Linked DNA regions of Homo sapiens: regions 1 and 2 are each reported to be linked to region 3. Evidence: microRNA targets listed by miRTarBase, many of them from high-throughput screens and not tested one by one. Region 3 holds a microRNA gene; each other region holds the end of a gene's coding sequence.
Evidence for each region. Region 3 holds the annotated microRNA hsa-miR-591 (AGACCAUGGGUUCUCAUUGU, at 1,105-1,124, opposite strand). A microRNA usually pairs through its seed, bases 2 to 8, with sites in the 3' UTR of a target mRNA and lowers its output. Matches are read on the target gene's strand: a 7mer-m8 pairs with bases 2 to 8, a 7mer-A1 pairs with bases 2 to 7 and ends in A, and an 8mer does both.

Region 1 (3,258 bases), not on the chromosome of region 3:
GGTCAGGGGTGAGGACGTGGAGAGGAGGGCCAAGTTGAGAAGGCCCACGGTTCTCACAGATGCCTTCGTTCCATGGTAGTCAGTACTGACCCAATGCTTCCATCTCAGGAGAGGCTGAGGGCATCACACGAAGCCAGCGCAACATCGCCTGGTTAGTCAGTTTGCCATGGGGCTGGTAGAGGAAGCACGGGGTGATCTCATCCTACATTCTGCTTCCCTTTCTTCCCTGGATGACTTGTGGAGCACTGAGGGGTCCCTCAAGAATGTGGCTGAGCACAGCAGGGAGAGCAGGGCTAGAAGAGATGATGAATTACTGAGGCATTTCAGCACCTTGGCTCTGTCTCTCTTCCCCTCCAGGGAGGAGCTGTCATAAACAGAGATACCAAGCGGTGTCTGGAGATGAAGAAGGATCTTTTGGGTAGCCACGTGCTTGTGCTCCAGACCTGTAGCACGCAAGTGTGGGAAATCCAGCACACTGTCAGAGACTGGGGTCAGACCAACAGCCAGTGATCCTCAGATGGTGCTGGATCTGGGTCATCAATTCTTGCAAGTGGAATGGCTTCTACTCCTAACACTCCCAGCTTCTTTCTCAATGAGAAAGAAAGCATGTGTATGTCTGTTTATGGCGACTTCAGGTGGGGCCTGTGCGTGTGCCGGGGTGTCTCTGTTGGAGAGAGGAGAGGAAGCTCTGATGCCTCGTCCCCAGCTTCCCTGGGAAGGTCGTGATATATATCAAATGCCATTCTTGGAAACTCCTTGAAATAACCAGCATCTTTTGGCTGTTACGTGGGGAGAGAAGGAGGAGGTTGGAAGTTTATCTTTGACTTCTGCCCACGATGTTTAGCCTTCCTTCCCGACAGCTACTGTCGCCATCTGCCCCACACCTCCTCCCCAGCTCATCTGCTTGGGGACTCCCCAGGCTGCCGGGGGCCATTCCACGTGAGAGGCTGGGCCCTCCTCAGGCCGGCAGCATGACACCTCTTCAGGTAGCACTAATTCTCCCTCCTGCCTGGACTGTCCTGAGAGATGCAGAAAATAGATAAGTGACTTTTAAACATTCCTCCATTCATCCTTCCATGGCAGTTTTATTTGGATGATCAGTCTCTCCCACACCAAAGAGATTCTGGAGGCTGAGGGGAGGAGAGAAGGCACCTCGACTCATCACAGCTGTCCAGGGGACAGTGTGTTGAGAAGGGTAAGAAAATCCAGGGCCATCAAAGCCTTTCTCTTAGTAGGTCATAACATTTAATGACTTAATTACCTATTCCCTCCTCCTACTCTTGCAAATTATGGAGAAGATGAGGCTTGAATCAGAGGGGCATCGCTTGTTGTGGGCAAAGAAGAGATTGCAGGCAAAATCTTAAAACCAGGGATTCTACGGCTGCCCACTGGATAAATATTTTCTGCTAGTTGGTGAGTTGGGAAGATATAGCTCAGCCTGCCAATTTTTGGCAAGGTCTTGGAGGCTGGTGGGACCAGGCACCATGGTGGGAGAGGAGGTAGGATGGTCCTGTGCGTGTGGTGTGTTGTGGGATTACCCTTCAAGCATGTGCTCCCAGAACCCCTTCTTCAGAGGGCCACTTTTCTCTCTTAGTCCCGTGTCAGGGCTGCCTGGAAATGATTTGGGGAATCATTAGGTTTTCTTCAGGCCTTAGGCAAGCAGGACAGTGATAATTTGGTACAGAATTTAATCAATTAAAACTTATAAAAATGAACTTTTAAAAGTGTACAGGTTATAGATAGCTTGATTAAAATTTCACTATGAACACTGCCATATCAAGAACTAAAACTACTGCAGATACGATTTTATTATGAAAAAATCAAGGGACAAGATGAATGTTAAGCAAATGTATAACTTCTAGCTTCTGCCTGGCAAATTGAAGGGAAAATGCAGTTCACAGCAAAGTTTCGAAAAAGCATGTACCCAATAGAAAGTTGGATAAAAGACACAATACTTAAACATATGAAAAGATGTTTAACCTCATTCGTAGTTAGAGAAATGCAAATTAAAACTGTATTGAGATACTTTTCACTTAAATTGGTAAAAATTAAAAAGTAAGACAGCACATTCTTTTGGAAGGGCTGTGAGAAACAGGCAATCTTATACATAAGGCAAACTGGGGATATTTAGCAATATCTAAAGAAACTGTATGTACATTTTCTATTTGTGCCAGTAATTCCACCTCTAGAGATTTACCTTAAAAATAAGAAAATACTTAGCACAAAGTGACTCTTTGCAGTATTCATTGTAACTGAGAAATGTTGAAAAAAAAAAAGATGTGGCTGAACATCAGAGAATAATTGAATACCTCCATATAATGGAGTACTATGCAGCTATGATAAAGAACAAAGACTCTTTCTCTGAACTGATATGGGGTGATTTCCAGTATCTTTTGTTAAGCGGGAAAAGAAAAATAGTATCTATACTATGTACCTTTTAGGTAAGAAATAAGAGAAAAATATACCTGCATCTGTTCATTTCTGCAAAGTAAAACATAAGAAGAATAAATAAGAAAATAATGAGATTGGTTACAATAGGTGGTGGTGGTTGGAAATAGGGCAGAAATAATTGGGAATAGGAACGGGATAGAAGGGATGTGGGGAGAGTGACATTTCTCTAACTATATTTTCTATAGTTTTGACTTCTAGAACCGTGTTATGTTTCAAATGCTTAAAATATAAATCTATAAAATCAATAAAGATAGAAACCCAAAATGGAGTATAAACAAAAATAAGTGAACCTAACTATATTTCCATATTGTAAATGAACACATACACACTCACTCATGCACACACACATTGATCACACCTAACATGCAGCACGCAGATCTTGTTTCTAAATATTTTCCAGTGAAAGGAATTACAAGCCTTTGGAGAAATAGCTAATTTTAGGGCTGGGGCTGGGATATCTTTCTATTTTAGAAAGTTATAAACTGCTCAGAAAATTATGGGGACCTGTCACAAACCACAATGGTCAGGTTGAAGGGGCTTCCACTGGCCAAATCTGGGACAATTTGAGTATTAAAATAAATAACGGTAATTTTAATTGAGTGATTGGCGTTAACATCATCAGTTGTCGGACAAACGGATATCATGGGCCTCCTGATATAATGCAAGAAGAACACAATATCACTTCTATGGTTTTCCTGCCAAAATACAGAACCTGAACCTATAATCTTGAGGAGACATCAATCAAACCCAAATTGAGGGACATTCTTCAAAAGAAATGGTCTGTATGCTTCAAAAATATCAACTCAT
Region 2 (3,243 bases), not on the chromosome of region 3:
ACTGGGACTTGCATTTTATAACCATAAAAAAAGATATAGGGAGGAAAGTTTGAACTCTTCTTGAACCTCATCCCTAGAAGTTACCACTTCATCTGAATGCCAGTTTACAGCTGGAAGAGGCAGTTAGGGTGGTTATGAGTCCTGTATAAATGGACTCAAATCCTGGGGCTGATTCTGTCCCCCTGGCCAGTCACGTTAGCATCAATGGGAGCTTCAGCATAGACCAGTCAGTAACAGAAGAAATGATAAGCAGAAACATAAGTTAAGCCAGTCAGGTTAGGTAGTCATGGGATAGGAGCCTGTTAACCTGTATGTTTCTCCTCTTGGTACCAGTTAACCACAGAGTTAAAGAATCTGAAAAGTGTCAGAAATGATTTACCCTGACCACCTCATTGTCCAGACATAGAAACTTTGCCCAGACAGAGTAGTTACTTGCCCAAGGTCATTCAACAAGTCCATGCTGAGCAGAGAATAGAATCCTGGCCTTCAGTGTCATATGCCTTCAACTTGACAACTTTGACTGATGACCTCTCTCCTCACTGTTCAGGGAAAGATCGAACTGGAAGAAACAATTAAAGTATGGAAGCAGCGGACACATGTTATGCGGTTCTTCCATGAAACAGAAGCGCCAAGGCCAAAGGATTTCCTATCCAAGTTCTATGTTGGCCACGATCCATGAAGTCATTCAGTGGAAAGATGCACGTTGATACTATTTTAGAGCACAAATAAACTCACTATACAATGGTCACTTTGTGATAGAATTCCATTGATGAACCAATTTTCTGCAGCCTCTTTTTGCCTGAGCAAGTGGGACCTTGGTATACACATCACCTGTTCTTTCCCTTTTCTTGAAATGTGGTGTTTGCTGTAAATTGGATTGAATTATTTTTCTCAGAGCCTTGCATGTCAGTAAACAGGAAGGAAGGAGGCCATCTGTTCAAAAATTGTGACATTGGGCATGAGGCTGGACGACTTGTTAATGTAGTTGTTTCTATAGCCCCTATGATTAGACACTTCAGTGTCAGGGCACAGATTATCTAAAATTAGCCAGCTCTTCCTGTCAGGGATCAGGGCAGCACTAACAGGCGCAAAAGTAGAGCTGTCAAGATGGGCTAGTTTTCCTTGGGTTCTGAAGAAAATGGATGTGCAAAGGCTTGGCTCCGCTACTTGTAACAAGCTCCAGCCCTTAAAATGAAATTAACTTCCTACTCAGGCACCCTGCTTAGGTGCACAGCTGTTCAATATACACAGAGAACAGAAATATTCCTACTGTCTTTGGAAACCCTGGTGTACCTCTCAGTGGCAGAATAAACATCAACACAGGTTCAAGAACTGATCTCTGTTTGGATGGTGGTCTTCTCTTGTGCTTCCCAGGGCAATCCAAATGATGGAGAAGGGGTTTGGAATCTATAGGTATGATCACTGAGGACTCCCATACTTTTTTTTTTTTTTTAAATAGAGATGGCGTCTCTCCATTGCCCAGGCTGGTCTTTTTTTCTTTTCTTTTTTTTGAGATGGAGTCTCGCTGTTGTTGCCCAGGCTGGAGTGCACTGGTGTGATCTTGGCTCACTGCACCTTCCACCTCCTGGTTCAAGTAATTCTCCCTGCCTCAGCCTCCCAAGTAGCTGGGATTACAGGCATGGACCACCACATCCAGCTAGTTTTATATTTTTAGAAAAGACGGAGTTTCACCATGTTGGCCAGGCTGGTCTCAAACTCTTGACCTCAAGTAATCCACCCGCCGTGGCCTCCCAAAGTGCTGGCGTGAGCCACCGCGCCCAGGCCAGTCTTGAACTCCTGGGCTCAAGTGATCCTCCTGCCTCCGCCTCCCAAAGTGTTGGGACTACAGGCATCAGCCATTGTGCATGGCCCCAAACCTTATGGCACCAAGGATCCCTTTATAATCTTTTCACGTAAGGAACCTGAGGGAAAAACTCAAGGTGTTTTTGTGTTCTCTCACTCAATAACAATAAACACATAAGACTTCTGTGATCAAACGTTATGAGGGTTTCTCCCCACACTAAGCAAGCAGTCAGTTCTGCAGCAGACACCAGCTGCCTGTCCTCCAATTCTCTTCGAACACTATCTACCTGGAGATAGCAACAGATTCCACAGGTTTGGGGCTCAGTCCCACAAGACTGCTCCCACCCCCATTAGACAACATTCACAAGTCCAAGCCTCCAGAACTTCTGAGCTTCAAGTTCCCATGACCCCTTCTTTTTTTTTTTTTTTTTTTGAGATGGAGTCTCACTCTGTCGCCCAGGCTGGAGTGCAGTGGTGCCATCTCGGCTCACTGCAAGCTCTGCCTCGCGGGTTCACGCCATTCTTCTCCTGCCTCAGCCTCCCGAGTAGCTGGGACTACAGGTGCCCGCCACCACACCCGGCTAATTTCTTCTATTTTTTAATAGAGACAGAGTTTCACTGTGTTAGCCAGGATGGTCTCGCTCTCCTGACCTTGTGATCTGCCCGCCTTGGCCTCCCAAAGTGCTGGGGTTACAGGTGTGAGCCACCGCACCTGGCTGACCCCTTCTTTTTAATTTGCTGGAGCAGCTTGCAGAACTCAGAGGAACACTTAGGTCCGTTTACTGGTTTATTATAAAGGATATCACAAAAGATACAGCTGAAGAGATGCATAGGGTGAGGTATAGAAGGGGCGTGGAGCTTCCAAGTTCTCTCCAGGCGTGCCACTTTGCAAAGCCAAGTGTTCTGTTCTCCGAAAGCTCTCTAAACCTGTCTTCTTGGGCCTTTTATGGAGACCTCATTGGATAGGGATGATTGAAGCATGGACAACACTGGAGAAATGGGATTGGACAAAAGAGGCATAATCTAATACAGATGGAGTGGGGAAGTCCAACAAGGCCTGTCTACATTTCTTCCTCTCAGGTATGGGGCAGAATCCCTTCTGAAATGGGGGTCTCATGACCTAAAATCAGACAAGGTAGGTCAGAGGATTCTTTTTATGGCCAACTGGAAGACGGGCAAAGGAAGATTATACTTTTAGTTTCTATGGCCTGCCTTGGGGAGAAAAAGCAGCAGGTGAAAGGAGGTCAGGAGAAGATCTGAGAAACAGCCTGCTGTTTTCTGAGGCCCGAAGTGCCCAACATTATAACAAAAGCCTAAAACAAGGGTTTTGGGAGTTATAAGCCAGGAAATAGATGAAAACCTATCTATATCCTCATATCACAGAACCCGAGTTTTGAATCATTCTAGTTATATTTAAGTAGTATGCTAACAAGCAGAGCT
Region 3 (3,258 bases):
TATCTATGAAAAAGAGTTTCTCATTAAAATAAAAAAGATTCATCAAGCTATATTATTTCAAACACTAAACCATAATCTCTCTCTCTTTCTCATGGATTTTAAAAATTCCATTAATACAATAAACACAAAAGGGATGTTTGTGTTAAACATAAAAGTAACCCCTCTTGGAGGCAAAGAGAGGACTGCTGAAGGCCCAGCATTTTATCTCTGAACAGTTTCATGCTTTTTCTAATGCATGCTAAATCCTCAAAGAAAGTTGTGGTTTTTCTCTAAGGGAAGTAATATTCCACCCTGCTGATATGGTTAACAACCAGCTTCTACGGCCATCATCTTTTAAGCAGGGAGCAAAAGACAAATTGTTGAATTCGTACATTAAATAACATAATGGAGTAAGTGGATGCAGACCTATCTCTACTGCCATATGCTCCAATATCAAGGTTGCCATTTCAAACCCTTTTGACAAGTGCCTTTTTACATTAATCACAGCTAAGGGTCTGAAGAGGAAAGACGTATTCTGGCTACAATTCAGAGTCGCTCAAGAAACTTCTAGGGGGAAAATGGTTGCCATTAAAACATAGTAAGTAGAGCATAAGTACTTCACATTAAAATTGAGTTCTCTATAATCCCCTGTAAACTTTTTATTATTATTATTCTGAACATGTAGGTACAGTGGTGATAGGTATCTTTCAAAAAATAAGCACACACACAGCCAAGCTGAGCCAAATATTATACTAAAGTCATATGTGGTATTGGTGTATGTAAAAATTAGGGCTAATTTAAAACTCTTCCAGTTCTGTACTTAGGGATGGAACTAGCCTGAGTTAAGGTCATGTGGCATTCAGGAAAGAACCCTATCCTTCTAGTGCCAGAAGTCAAAGTTGTGATTCTTATGAAACTAGTCACCTTTTCCCCTCTGGGCCTGTTTCCTCATCCATGAAAGAAAGCCATAAACTATACTCAGCCATTGTTCATTTGAAGTAGGAACTACATTCCCTTGGAGAGCTTGTTTAAAACACATTCCCAAGCCCCACACCCAAAAATTATGAATCAGTAGATTTGAGACAGAGCCAGGGAGTCCACAGTTAACCAACATTCTACACTATTACAATGAGAACCCATGGTCTACCTCATTGATAAGACTCCCTCCTCCTCTATAATCTGACAGATCTATCAATTCTCAAGATTCATACACTATTTAAGTCATCATAGTGACTGTGAGTCAACAACAACAACAAAATGGCTCAAGGCTGGCAGATATTTAGCGTAAGATATTAACCATCTGTCACACACACTAACTAAATCAACAGAGGGGCCAACTGAGATGTTTCCAATTATCTGCTAGAAAAAGTATTTTCAACTGGGTAGAATAAATCATTATTAGCCTTTCATAATATCAAAAGTAGGTCAATTAAAATGGTGTTTAGAGGCATATAGCAGACTGTGGCCACTCTCCAGATGTGTAAGCTTGCTTTAATCATCTGCTGTGTGTTAATTATTGTTAACTTTCATTACCACTAGAGAATACAACTAATGTTTTAAAATTCTTAAAGCATTACAGAGTCCTAATTCACTCTCTAAATGCAAATATAATATCTATATTGTTTTCAAAAACCTATTTCCTAAGCTAGTTTCCTTAGACGGATATTATCGAAAATTTTCTTGCAAAAGCATTAACATACATTTAACCCTACTTAAATGCTTCAAGAGCAGATGTACTACAAATGTACACCCACAGTGATCCCATATTAGTATAAAACTGTTTTATTTCAATTAAAATGTCTAAGTATCCACCCCCAACATATACCTAAACTGTAATTTTCTCTGAGAATTTCCAATATGTTCTTGATTTTGTTTCCTTTATCAACCTATCAGAGCAAAAACTGCCTTGCAACTGTTGGAAGAAATCAGTCATTAGCAGCAAGATTACAGCAAATTTTCCAATTTAGAAAAACTGTATTTTTATCTCTCTCTTATACCAGAAGAAGAATGGTATAATTTTCCTATCTTTAAATAAGCAGTACAGTTAGTTTAAAATAGTCAAATTTTCCTAGGACTCTAAGTTTCAGGATTTTATGTTAGCTTTCTGTTCTCTACACCTTCTTTCCTACTCACAAGTTCTCTTCACCCTTCATCATGCATGCACATGAACATGCACATACACACACACACATGCACACACAAACACACAGGTGCACATGCACACACAGGGACAGCAGCCCCCAGTCCAGTCTCTCCACTCCCTGACAGGCTTCTAAGGAACAGTTAACCTTCAGGCAGTAGTTAACTAAGGAGTGGCTTCACATGGTTATTTTGATTTGCTCTCCAACTGACATTCTTCCACCTTCTCAACAGGTCTGCCTTCTTTTCTCCCCCTCTCTATTTTTAAAATGGAGTGATGAAGTAGCAAAAAGTACAATATTTTAGCCATTTGAGCACGGGCGATTCTTAAATTATCCCACCAACTGGAAGTGCTCTCTGATACTACTATCTTTCAAAATTGAAGCCATTATGGTCAATCGTGCAAATCCGTATTTAGCTTTTCGTAAATAGTGGATTTTTGACCCAATGAACTGGAACAGTTTCTGGACAGTCTCTAGGATCTCTGAAAAGATACTCAGTACCCAGGCATGCCACAATTCTTATCAACATAGAGACTATTTACTTTCAAAACTCATACTGTTCTTATTCGAAATTCTTACTCTCTATTTGGGATGTAAGCATGTATAAGAGAATATACTCAGCCCCCTCTTTACCTCTCATAAAATAAAATCAAATCTACTGCAGGGCAATATTTTTCTTTCATCAAAATGACACATTATTTTTGTGAAACACCAAAATCAGAACCAATATTAATGAAGAACTTTCCCCAAGTAACGTTTCTTCTGATTCTTCACCACCTTCTCCCTCAGCTATCTTTTCGAATATTTCATTTTCGAAGTGTCTTTACAAAGACAGTAACAAATGACCTTCCTTTCCAGCAAGCTTAAAAATGATGGGTAAAGTCTGCCTTCTTCCAATCCAATACCAGCATTCCTCTAGCTTTATATATTTAATATTAAATTTGAGTGCTTAACTTCGAAACTTCTCATTTCCATACTTTTAACTCCCATCATTTTCTGCAACCTGAATCGAAGTGACTGAGTGGGTGTTTCCACACATTTCCTAATGTCATCTAGCCTACCCATTTTCCCAAAGCACACCAATTTCATCATAGCAGGTGTTCCTGGACACAATCTAAGTTGAACTCAGAAAGGGTCC

Region 1: miRTarBase lists GALNT8 as a target of hsa-miR-591. The part of its 3' UTR that is shown has no 7-base or 8-base seed match.
Region 2: miRTarBase lists NDUFA6 as a target of hsa-miR-591. Seed matches in the 3' UTR shown: 7mer-A1 at 742-748.

Annotation. Positions count from the first base shown.
Region 1 is chr12:4,772,088-4,775,345 of GRCh38, forward strand. GALNT8 (polypeptide N-acetylgalactosaminyltransferase 8) reads left to right here. Exons shown (of 11, transcript NM_017417.2): 11 at 358-639. The coding sequence ends at 510. Among named protein-coding and RNA genes, the nearest start is that of KCNA6, 36 kb to the right of the region's middle.
Region 2 is chr22:42,083,619-42,086,861 of GRCh38, reverse strand. It overlaps NDUFA6 (NADH:ubiquinone oxidoreductase subunit A6), which reads left to right. Exons shown (of 3, transcript NM_002490.6): 3 at 548-1,336. The coding sequence ends at 679. SMDT1 (single-pass membrane protein with aspartate rich tail 1) reads right to left here. Exons shown (of 3, transcript NM_033318.5): 3 at 2,578-3,243. Among named protein-coding and RNA genes, the nearest start is that of NDUFA6, 5.5 kb to the left of the region's middle.
Region 3 is chr7:96,218,618-96,221,875 of GRCh38, forward strand. It overlaps MIR591 (microRNA 591), which reads right to left and starts at 1,139; the gene lies at 1,045-1,139. The region is part of intron 4 of SLC25A13 (solute carrier family 25 member 13); the gene reads right to left.